Regions from separate parts of the Homo sapiens genome. Here region 1 is linked to region 2. A link means that fine-mapping ties the variant in region 2 to the expression of a gene that starts in the linked region. Tissue or cell type: adrenal gland. Region 2 holds a variant in brackets; the other region holds the start of a gene. All regions are shown on one strand. Distances are from middle to middle.

Evidence for each region.
Region 1: it holds the start of ROR2, and the variant in region 2 is fine-mapped to the expression of ROR2 in adrenal gland (GTEx, PIP above 0.99).

What each region holds. Positions count from the first base shown.
Region 1 is chr9:91,948,559-91,951,363 of GRCh38, forward strand. ROR2 (receptor tyrosine kinase like orphan receptor 2) reads right to left here and starts at 1,670. Exons shown (of 9, transcript NM_004560.4): 1 at 1,309-1,670. The coding sequence starts at 1,405. RefSeq lists enhancers at 461-962, 963-1,462 and silencers at 1,656-1,835, 1,949-2,243.
Region 2 is chr9:91,894,751-91,897,555 of GRCh38, forward strand. The region is part of intron 1 of ROR2 (receptor tyrosine kinase like orphan receptor 2); the gene reads right to left. Among named protein-coding and RNA genes, the nearest start is that of ROR2, 54 kb to the right of the region's middle. RefSeq lists an enhancer at 1-356. The variant T/C (reference allele first, on the strand shown) is at 1,566.

The sequences.
Region 1 (2,805 bases), 54 kb after region 2:
TAAAACCCCCCCCCAGGAAAGACTGTGCAGCCTTTCTGACTCGCGTACCTTGGGCCGGCTAGGGCGGCAGGCCAGGATACCTGGAGCGCGCAGCTCCCAGCAGGACGCAGGAAAAGCAGAGCGTCTCCCAGCCTGCGACTGTCCCGATTCTCACCTTCCTGCAGGAGTGCAGGGATGGGGGATACTGAAGCCCATTTACTAGTAAGAAGTGTCTCACACATTCCGGGGGCTTCAGGCGAACCCCATAGGTCTCTGGCGCTCCTGGGCCTGAAGGCCCCGCCCGCCCTCCTCCACCCCCGCAGGGTGCCGAGAATCCGGCCCGAGGCGCGCGGGCGGGAGGTGCTCCCGGAGTCTGCACCGCCAGAGCTAACGCCGCCTCCTCCAGGCAACCTAGGCAGGTCCCAAGCTGCACTTCCGAACCTCCCCGCCGTTCCTCTGCGCCCCGGATCCAAGCAGCCGAAACCGCGCAGGGACTCGGGGGAAGTGGGGCCCCGGGAGGAAACCCACCTAGGAGCCGGGCCCCGCCCCTCCCGCCGCCAGCCTCCTACAGGTCCCGGGGGTCCCCCCGGCGCGGCCAGAAGGCGGCCGCGCCCCAGCCGCTCAGGGACCCGCGATCCCAGTCACAAACCATTTCAATCCAGATCACACACCACTTCGGCCACCCCAGAGCGGTGGGGGAGAGGAGGTTTCAGGGACCAACAAAAGGGATGCCAAAGAGCCCGTTTCCATCAAGCGGCCCGCGGGCTGGGAAAGTCAGGACCCGGGAGCCGCCGGCGCCCCCACCCCCGCCGCAAGAGCCGCTTCTCCGGGGCCACGTCCACCCCAGGATTCTGCCAGGCATCAGGCCGCCCTGGGGGTGGGGGGACGCTCCGAGACAGACGGGGGACACTCGGGGCCGTGTGCCCTTGAAGGAGGAAGACCTCGGGGAGGAAGCCCGGGTCCTGGGACCCTCGGGGCACATCTGCGGACTCGGGTCCCGGGCCCAGGGCGGGTACTCACATTCACACTCGCACTCCCACTCGCGACCCTCGGGAAGCGCCACCGAGAGGCTCCCAGCCGCCGCCGCCCGCCCCCAGACTCTGGAAACACTTAGGCGTCCCCAGAGCGCGGCTTATTGTAACCAGCCCGAGGGGGTCCGGGGTGCGGGCCGGGAGCGGCGTCGGGCGAGATGCGAATGGCCCTGCCTGGCGCCCCTCGTTCAGGAGCATGGGCGCCGGCGCAGCGGCCGGGAGCATAGTGGCGGCGGAAGGGCTGGCCAAGCGAGCCGTGAGCTACCGTCTGCGCACAAGCCGGAACGCCAGATCCTACCTGAAGTCCGGGACACTGAGAGCAGAAGCGCGGCGGCCGCCCAGACGGCCGGGATGCACAGCAGCGGCCGCCGCGGGAGCGCCGAGCCCCGGGCCATGCCGCAGGCAGTGGGGGCCGGGAAGCCCTCAGAGCTTCGGGCCGGGGCGCGGGGTCGGGCGCCACCACCCCTTTCTACGATGCGTCCGCTCCTCCTTCTCCCTGGCGCTTCGCAAACGGGTCCACTTCGAGGACCTCGTCGTCGTCCTCTTCTCCGGCCCGGATGCGCCGCTCGGCTCCGGCCACGGCAAGGGCTGGCTGGGGAGGTTCCTTGGCGCGGGCTGGGGCGTCCCGCCGGCCGCCAGGACGAGCGCGGGGGGCGGACCGCGGGCGAGCGCGCAGGAGGCAGGGTCCCCGCTCGCCCGCCCCGATGGGCAGAGCGAGGCTTGCGCCGGCGCCCCCTGCCGGGGGAACGCGCGGGCGGCGGGCGGGACCCAAGGAGCTGGGGCTGCAGCTGGGGCCCCGGACCTGCCTCCTGCGCCCGCCCTCGGGCCTGCGCCTCGGAACGCTTGAACACAAAGGTGGCGCCTTGGGGGCGTCAGCCGGAGTTCGGCGGGTCTGCCCACGCAGGAGAGGCGCCCAGAGCGGGTGCCCCCGACTTTCGGGGGCGACACACCCGGGGATCTAGGTCACAAATCAGTAACTCCAGGCTGCACTGCGCACCGGGACAAATCTGAGAGCCACCCAGCCCCAGACACCAGCGGTGAGGCAGGAAGAGGAGAAGCGAAAGTTGCAAAAGGAAATGTTCAGGAAAACAAACAGGCCGCCTTGGCACCGGCGCCCTCCCAGGTCGGTGGGGACAAGCGCGTCCCCCGAAATGCTCAAAACTGCCAGGGGTCGAGCTGCGTGGAGGGAGCCCTCGGGAGCGCGATGCTATCCGAAGCCACCGCGGCTTTTGGTTTACTGTTAAAAGCAAATTGTATAATTTTACCCATTAAAGGCAGAACACTATTTGTTCTCTGCAGAGGCCCAGAATGTGCAGAATTTGCTTCACTTATTAGAGACATTTTGAACGGAATTCAAATAGCATGTTTTCTTGCTTATTCTTGGTTTTGCTCAGCACATGCAAATGTCTTTGTTTTTCCTCTTAGAGGAAGGAATTGGATTCTCCAGCATCTCAGTTGCTTGTTCCATGAGATTGATCTTTTAACTGATTATCCAGCAGTTTGTTTGGTGTTTTTGCTGGAGTACCAAGCTCTGTTAATTGGAGGGCATTAGGGAGAGCCCTGGCCTTGGGTGCCAGACGTGAGGCCTCAGACGTGGCCAGAAATAAAAACTCTCTTGCTATGGTCTGCGGACAAAATGACTAAGCCAGCTCTAGCTTGTTACCTCTGTTAAAAGTATTTAGGCGTCCGGCTATCTCTACCCAATTTGTGTAGGGAAATATCTCACGCAGTTCTCATTCCCAGGAGCTGCTGTAAATCCAGTAGGAGAATGGGAGAAGATCCTAGCCCCTCCTCA
Region 2 (2,805 bases):
AAGTTCCTCCTATCCAAAACACTGATGACACCAAATGCTGGGAGGATGTGGAGCAACAGGAGGTCCCATTCACTGCTCATGAGAATGCAAAATGGTACGGCCACTGAGGAAGACAGTTTGATGGTTTCTTACAAAGCTAAACACACTCTTACCCTATGTTCTAGCAATCACACTCCTTGGTATAAGGAGATGAAAACTTATGTCCACACAAAAACCTGCACAAGGATATTTACAGCAGCTTCATTCATAATTGCCAAAACTTGGAAGCAGATGTCCTTCAGCAGGTAAGAGGGTACACAAATTGTGGTACATCTAGTGGATGAAATATTCAGCACTAAAAAGAAATGAGCTATCAAACCATGAAAAGAGATAGAGCAAACTTAAATGCCAATTGCTAAATGAAAGAATCCAATCTGAAAGAACTACATACTATATGATTCCAACTATAAGACATCTAGAAAAGGTAAAACTATGGAGTCATGTGATTGCCAGGGATTGGGGAGGAAGGGATGAATAAGTGGAGTACAGAAAATTTTTACGGCATTGAAAAATATCTGTATGATACTATCATGGTAGACACATATCATTTTACATTTGTTCAAACCCACAGAACATACAGCACCAAAAGTGAACCCTAAGGTAAACTATGGACTCTGGGTGATAATGATATATCAATATAGGTTCATCAACTGTAGAAAACACACCACTCTGGTAGGGGATGTTGGGCAGGTTACAGGGAATATGGGAATTCTCTGTTCCTTCATCTCTATTTTGTTGTGAACCTAAAATGTTCTAAAAAATAAATCTATTTAGGCCAGGCACGGTGGCTCACGCCTGTAATCCTAGCACTTTGGAGGCTGAGGCGGGCGGATCACTTGAGGTCAGGAGTTCAAGACCAGCCTGGCCAACATGGTGAAACCCCATCTCTACTAAAATACAAAATTTAGGCGGGCATGATGGCAGATGCCTGTAATCCCAGCTACTCGGGAGGCTGACACGGGAGAATTCGCTTGAACATGAAAGACGGCGGTTGCAGTGAGCCGAGATCGCGCCACTGCACTCCAGCCTGGGCGGCTGAGCGAGACTCTGTCTCAAAAAAGAAAAAAGAAATACATAAATCTATTTAAAAAAATGACTCTACTCTTAATTGGTAATTCAGGCATTTGGTGATACAGGGAAGCCAAGGTCCCTCCATGTCACCCGCGTGCCAGTACCTCCCACCAGACACCTGTGGCAGCTGAGACTGCTTGTGTATCAAGAAAACTTGAGCCCATGTCACAATCTTTCAAAAATATTCAAACAGCCTCCATCTTTGACAAATGCCCAAGGTTAATGTTGCAAAAAAGGATGAAATCCATAGAACACATTACTGGAAAAGTTTTCCAAAATCTGTCTTCCTTCCTCTAGAAGAGAAATTCACGCAGTGCATACAATATTGTGAAGATGAAAAAGCAGCATCACCCTAGACCATCTCTCCTTAGACTGCGTGTCCTTCCTTGCCAGTGCCGCTCCACTGGGTATATTTGTAGCCCTGACTCTGTCTTGGCTGAACATCAAAGATGCAA[T/C]CTTGGTTCCCCCGCTTCCCCACAATGCTGTCCTCATCCAGTTTATCTTCAGAAACACCACTTTAAAAACAACAGAATTAATTCTCCTCAGATCCCTATTTCTCCTCACAAGGTGATCAGATTCCAGGTTTTTCCTTCGGCTTCTGGAAAGATCTCACCATATCCGGATTTTGCGCAGCCAACAGAAGTGTGAATAATCACTTGACAGTTTCTTATACCTCAAAAGTGCCTGCTCACATCAGCATGTTTCTTACTCTCTCTGCTTCTGGTTCCCATTAGAGAAATTGCCTCACTGGACACCAAGAAATAAGAGACTTATCTGCCCCCTTCCCCTTAAAGTTTAAACTCATAAACTAGATGGGAGAAATGTTCACATGTATGTTGTAATCCCTTTTAAACTTACTTCTAAGGGCACTTTTTTTTTCATTTGGGCTTAGAACTGATTAAACAAAACAATGTTCTGTCCAAACCTGCATTTTTCTTATTACTTTCTAATCATTTTACCACCAACATAAAGGCCTGTTCTTTTCCAACACTGGGCTCTTTAATCATTCCTGACAGGCCTCTGCTTTCTGCTTGGCCAGGCCCCAGCAAACACCGTTGGGCTCCACCGCCCTCGGCTGCTCTCCCTAAGTCCTCTCTGCCCGGTAACACAGCTCATTTAAAGAGCGAGTGGGAGCAAAGGGAAGGAAGGGGAAGGCCCATGCTCCTCGTGAAAGCTCCTCTTCCGTGTTCGGTGCAATGCAGCACTGGCAGCTGGATGCACACGTAGACCCCGTAAGTGCATAGGAAGCACGGGTGGGTTGTGGAGCCCCACCCTTCCCCACACAGCACTGTGATCAGAATAACTGCTCCCAAATTAAGGGAAAGGCTGGGAGTTTTCGAGTCCCATTAAACTTGATAGTCAAGCTACTTATTAAAATTAGCAATTAAACTTATACAATTTAATTTTCAAAGTGAAATCAAACATGGTCTCTTGTTTTAGGCCAAAATAATCCCAAAGGGGAAGCAGGGAAGACATGCCTATCCCACTTGTACAGAGGAAAGAAGGTGATCCAGGTCTTCTGGCATGTTCTCCTCTAAGGCATTGCCAAAAGTTATGTGGTTAGTAAACGTTATAATAATAGTCTCATGGGGTTGGTGATAATGTCAATAGTTAGTACAACCTTCCATGGCTTTAGGAAAATTTTGTCATAAGAACAAAGTGATACTGGGTGATGCTCTGACCAAAGAACAGGAT